2 separate regions of the Homo sapiens genome follow, and region 2 is linked to region 1. A link means that fine-mapping ties the variant in region 1 to the expression of a gene that starts in the linked region. Tissue or cell type: whole blood. Region 1 holds a variant in brackets; the other region holds the start of a gene. All regions are shown on one strand. Distances are from middle to middle.

Evidence for each region. PIP is the estimated chance that this variant, and not a neighbour inherited with it, causes the effect.
Region 2: it holds the start of FAAH, and the variant in region 1 is fine-mapped to the expression of FAAH in whole blood (INTERVAL, PIP 0.98).

The regions. Positions count from the first base shown.
Region 1 is chr1:46,278,287-46,281,044 of GRCh38, forward strand. RAD54L (RAD54 like) reads left to right here. Exons shown (of 18, transcript NM_003579.4): 18 at 1-187. It overlaps LRRC41 (leucine rich repeat containing 41), which reads right to left. Exons shown (of 10, transcript NM_006369.5): 6 at 2,110-2,274; 7 at 1,906-2,004; 8 at 1,206-1,328; 9 at 896-971; 10 at 1-798. The coding sequence ends at 579. Among named protein-coding and RNA genes, the nearest start is that of LRRC41, 24 kb to the right of the region's middle. The variant C/T (reference allele first, on the strand shown) is at 1,626.
Region 2 is chr1:46,393,228-46,395,831 of GRCh38, forward strand. It overlaps FAAH (fatty acid amide hydrolase), which reads left to right and starts at 1,090. Exons shown (of 15, transcript NM_001441.3): 1 at 1,090-1,316. The coding sequence starts at 1,122. RefSeq lists an enhancer at 978-1,491.

The sequences.
Region 1 (2,758 bases):
CAGCTGGTCTGGGTGTAGCTCTTAGAGGAAGGAGATAGGGAAAAGGGGCTCCTTGCTCCACAGGGCCCTGTTGAATTTTGTTCTCTGGGAGAAAATCATCAAGAAGGGCTGCATGATGTTTGCCCAAAATTTATTTTATAAGAAAAACTTTTTTGGTTAAAAAAAAGAATAAAGGTATGAAAGGGTTTGAGGCCTGAGAGCAGTGTGGTAAGCCCAGCAGGGAAGAAGCCCCCTATACTTCTCTAAAGCCTGGGTGCCTGCTTGAGGAGGGAAGGCAGGAACCCAGGGGCAGGGGAGGGGATCTCTTCAGCAATTATGATGACCACTGTAACCTCCTGGCCCAGGGTTCCCAGGATACTGAGTAAGGGGCCCAAAGACTATAAACCCAGCTGTGAGAATGCCTGTTTGCTGGGCCTCATCAAGGCCTCCAGGACCTCAGTGCAAGGGAAGAAGGAAAAAAGAGAAAAAAGGTGACAGAAAGAGAAAGATAGAACTGGTGGTTGGGGTTCTGGGCAGCCCATGCTTCAGCCCCTGCAAGCTGATGGTACCGAGCATGAGACTGTGAGGTACGGGCCCCATCACATGGTGCTAACATAATCTGCGAAGGCCTGGGATGAGTCCCATGAGTCGCTAACCACATGGCAGGTAGCCCGGAGCCGCCGGATGGCTTCCCTGGCTGTGACTGCATCCTGGTCCAGCCAGTTTTGGAAGAGGCGCAGGTGACCAAAGGCTCCACGGCCCCAGCGCTCCAGCCGCTTGGCGAACTCCAGAAGCCCATCTGGCTTGATGCAGTTGGAACTGGTAGGGTGAGATGGATTAGATATCCAGGAAGCAGTGAATTCCTGGTCTATATCTCTGTAGCCCCATCCCTTGTCTTGCCCCTCCCCTCATGTACCTGATGTCCAGCTGACAGAGAGAGGAGGATGAATCCTCTGAGAAAACATCTGCCAAGGCCAGCAGGCCAGCATTCCCTGGAGAGAAGGGGAGAACGCCTATCACCTCCACCCAAGAACAGGGGACAAGGGTATCCCAACCCAACTATGGCTGGCAGAACCAGCCCTGCTGGTTCCTGAAGCCCCAGCACAGAAATATCTGTATTCCAACTCCCACGTTCCCAGTGGAGAGGTCTTTGCCTTTATCCAGTGAGTTTTTAGGTCAAAGGCCTAGCTCCTTTCCCCTCTCCCTCCCCAGGGTCTGGCCCCCACCCAGGCGGTTCCCTGGCAGCCGGAGGCCCTTCAGTGTGGAGTTGCCCTTCATAGCAGCAACCATCTCAGGCAGAAATTGGGCTGGGCGCTTCTCAAACAGACGGCAGAAGGAGAAGGTAATCTCTGTCAAGAAAAATTATAGTAAATTCTGATGGCTGCATTAGGACTGGTGCTGCCCCTCCTGCCCCAGTTGGCCCTAGCAAGGGGTATTAACATTATAGAGGCCCAAAAAGAGGAAGGAATTTGTCTAGACTCCAAGCAAGGCTGGAACTAAATCAGAATCCAAACTAAAGACTGAACCTAAATGTTCCCTATAAGAAGGTTCTCTGCATGGACAATTCTCCATTCACTTCCTTCTTTCCCTAACACTGGCCACCCTCTATGCGGGGGTGGGGATCAGAGAAAAGTCTATGAGGGGAG[C/T]CTGGCACAGTACATTTATTTTGCCCCACCACCACCATTTTGTCCACCTCTGAAAGGTAAGAGCAACTTTTGGGTGAAGCACTCTAAAAGAGCGATTTCTCATGTTTAGTAGAGGAGGAATTGAGGTTGGGGCTTTTAGAAGGAAAATCATGCAGGTTCTATATCCATTTTATAGCTGAGGACACAAGGCCAAGAAAGGAACAGTGGTTTGCTCACTCAGATTATGGCAGAACCATAGTGAAGACCCAGGAAATGTCCAGGTTCTGAATAAGGAACTTACCTTGCAGAGTCAGATTCTGTAGCAAAAAGAGCACCTCGCTCTGACAGTCAGCGAGATTCATGTCATGGAAGCTCAGTCTTTTCAGGGCTAGGTTGTACTCTGGATAGGAGGCAGAGACCATGGACCATGGACCTTAGCTTTCCTAGAGAACAGTGCTAGGTCCCCACCTACTCCTCTCCCTTCACCATTCTGGCTGGGTCCTACCTTTGAGTGTTTGCAAAACAAGCCCAAAATCCTGGGGAGAGGCAAAGGTGGCACTATCCAGGGACAGCTGCTGCAGAGAACCCGAGGCCTTCAGAACGGAGCACAGCAGTGGGGCTGGCTGGGCTCCCCGTGGAAATCCCATCTCCAACTGCTCCAGGCAGTTTTCTGGATATGGTGGGGAAAGAAGATTCCAGCTGGCCATCTCTACCTCACTCCCATAGCAGGTCCCATCCTGTTCTTAAGGGATTCATCTAAAAAATTATTTATTCATTCACTTGTCGTTGAGTGCCTACCATATGTCAGCACTGTGCTAGATTCTAGGAATTGAGCACTAAATATGAGATTTAGTCCTTGCCCTTGTAGAAATTTTAGACCAGGAAGACAGGCTACCCAGACACAAGCAAATAAAGTATGCAGAGTGGTGGGATAGGAGACATACAAGAACTAAGGGAACATACAGCAGGGGAACTAATCCAGTCTAAAGATCAGTTCTTTTCCTTTTCTGGAGACCAAGCTGCCTTGGTCACTCTCTGCTGGTCTTATGGTGGTTTAGGCCCTGTCTAGCTCAAGAGTATCTTAGTGGTAGGCTCTAAAGGGGGGATAGGTTCCAGATAAGCCAGGAATGAGTGATAGAAGAGGTCCTTCCCCT
Region 2 (2,604 bases), 110 kb after region 1:
CCAGAATTTGACCACCAAGGAAGTACCTTACCGGCTCCCTCGGCTTCTTCCTTTGTCTGTGCACAGAGTTGTCTCTGCAGTGTGTGAGGATGCTTTACCCTAGGTTGCCTGCTGGTTTCTTTTCACATTGCTGAGAGCTCAGGTTATTTCTTGCACTGGGTGAGTCCTGATTTCTCACCCCTGAGGCCATCACAAGAGGGTGGGGCATACCTCCTCAGGAGAGAGAACCAGAGACTGCCCCTGAAGGGGAATGTAATCACGAGCAAGCCCCCAAATTGTTATAAATAAAGTTTCCCCCCAGTGCCGCAAAAGAAATAGCACTCGAATATAAAATTTTCTTTTTTTTCTTCTCAGCAAGGCAATTTACTTCTATAGAAGGGTGCGCCCTCACAGACGGAGCAAAGGTGAGCGCACACCTGGACAAGGGAGGGGAAGGTGGTTCTTATGCCTGACCCACGTGATTCCTGATGCTGTGTCCTTCCCCTGTTGGCTAGGGTTAGACCTATAGGCTAAACTAATTCCGATTGGCTAATTTAAAGACAGTGAGGGGGTGAGTGGTTTGGCGGGAAAAATGGTTACCGCAGAGCAGGAAATCGGAATGAACCACGGTGAAGAATGAGTGAGGGAGGAGCAGGTAATCGAAAAATGTTGCTTTATGAGGAAGTTAAGTTTAAAAGTAGAAGGCAAAGAATTGAAGATACTGACATATTGATTCTTTTAAGATAAATTTAGAACTCATATCTAACAGCTGGCATGTCTGGCATGGGGCTCCGGCTGGGGCGCAGTCTTCAGCATTTGGGGCTCTGGGGTGCAGGGGGCAGAGGACGGCCGGGGCTGTGGTGCCCAACCGGTGCTAAACTCAAGCTTGGGAGGTCGCCCACGAGAAACAGTCGCCCTTCCCCACCCGCCTGCTCGGCTTGGCGGGGAGCGGGATGTCGCTGGGGGCGATGCCAGGCGGGCCGCCTCTGATAGCCTCTAGGCTCTGGCGCGCTTCCCCGCCCCTCCCGCGCAGGCGGGCGTGGGATCCCGGCTGATCCAGTCCGGGTTTTGCGGCGGAGCGGGCGGGCTGCGCGTGCGGCGGCTTCAACTGTCGCGGTAGGCAGCAGCAGGCTGAAGGGATCATGGTGCAGTACGAGCTGTGGGCCGCGCTGCCTGGCGCCTCCGGGGTCGCCCTGGCCTGCTGCTTCGTGGCGGCGGCCGTGGCCCTGCGCTGGTCCGGGCGCCGGACGGCGCGGGGCGCGGTGGTCCGGGCGCGACAGAGGCAGCGAGCGGGCCTGGAGAACATGGACAGGGCGGCGCAGCGCTTCCGGCTCCAGGTGACTGCCGGAGCGTAGTGGGATGGGCGCGGCCTGAGGGTACTCGCAGCGGCACTTTCAGCCGCCGGACCCGCCGAGGGACAGGGGATGGGGCGGGCAGAGCAGATGTGTAACTCTCCAGAATCTCTCCTTGCCCTAAGATATTCCGCACTTTCTGAGCCAGGTAGAGCACGGGGGAAGAAAGGAAACGGTAGTGTCAAGGCAGGTGGTGGAAGGCCTTTCCCTCACTGGGTCAAAGAGGAGTTTTGCTTTGTGCCAAAGAATCTCACGATTGCTGCCTATTGGAATGCGAAAACGCAAGCGTGACAACCAGTGGGATGCCAGGGGTTGAGGACTTTGGAATCGCAGAGTGTAATGGCCAAGGGGATCTGGAGAGCTTAGAGTTTTGTTTTTTGTTTTTTTTTGTTTTGTTTTGAGACGGAGTCTCGCTCTGACTCCCAGGCAAGAGTGCAGTGGTGCGATCTCGGCTCACTGCAACCTCCGCCTCCCGGGTGCAAGCGATTCTTGCTGCCTCAGCATCCCCAGTAGCTGGGATTACAGGGGCCCGCCACTACGCCTGGCTAATTTTTGCATTTTTAGTAGAGACTGGGTTTCACCATGTTGGCCAGGCTGATCTCAAACGCCTGACCTCAGTTGATACACCTGCCTCGGCCTCCCAAAGTGCTGGGCGTGAGCCACCGCGCCTGGCTGAGTTCAAGCTTCTTGATTTGTGCATTTGGATCCTAAGAGGGAGCCAGAAAGAAACCTGCCAAGTGCACAGGGAGATCTTGGCAAAGCCAGGCTAGAAGGGAAGTCTCTCTGGCTCCTGCTGTGGTGTCCAACCCCTGGCAAGCCCTTTCCATGAGCAGGTTTAGTTCCAGCCCTCCGTGGGTGGTCTGTCAACAAGCTTTTCTCCCTGCGCTGCCTTTGGATCACCTCAGTATGTGGGTTTGGAGGCGTGGAAGGGCCTGGCTGAGGGTTTGGAAGATGTGGCTTGAAGAGGGGCTTTTCCTCTGGGTGTGTGAAACACTGACCCCAGTTAAAGCCTTCTTATGTGCTGAGAGAGGGAGGGCTTGCTGTATCTGTGGGACCTGACAGGTGGGAAGGCTTTACAGGTTGGGAACCGCAGGACTCAGGAGGGTGTGCCTGGGTGGGAGACAGAAAGAGTCACAGAAAATTGTGTTCAGCAGATGTTCCGCAAGTGATTTTTGAGTTGGGGCAGAGCTGGAACTAGAACCTAGGTGCCCGCTGCACTCTGCAGCCACACTTTCGTGGAGAGGAACAGGAGAGAGATATGAGGAAGGCACCT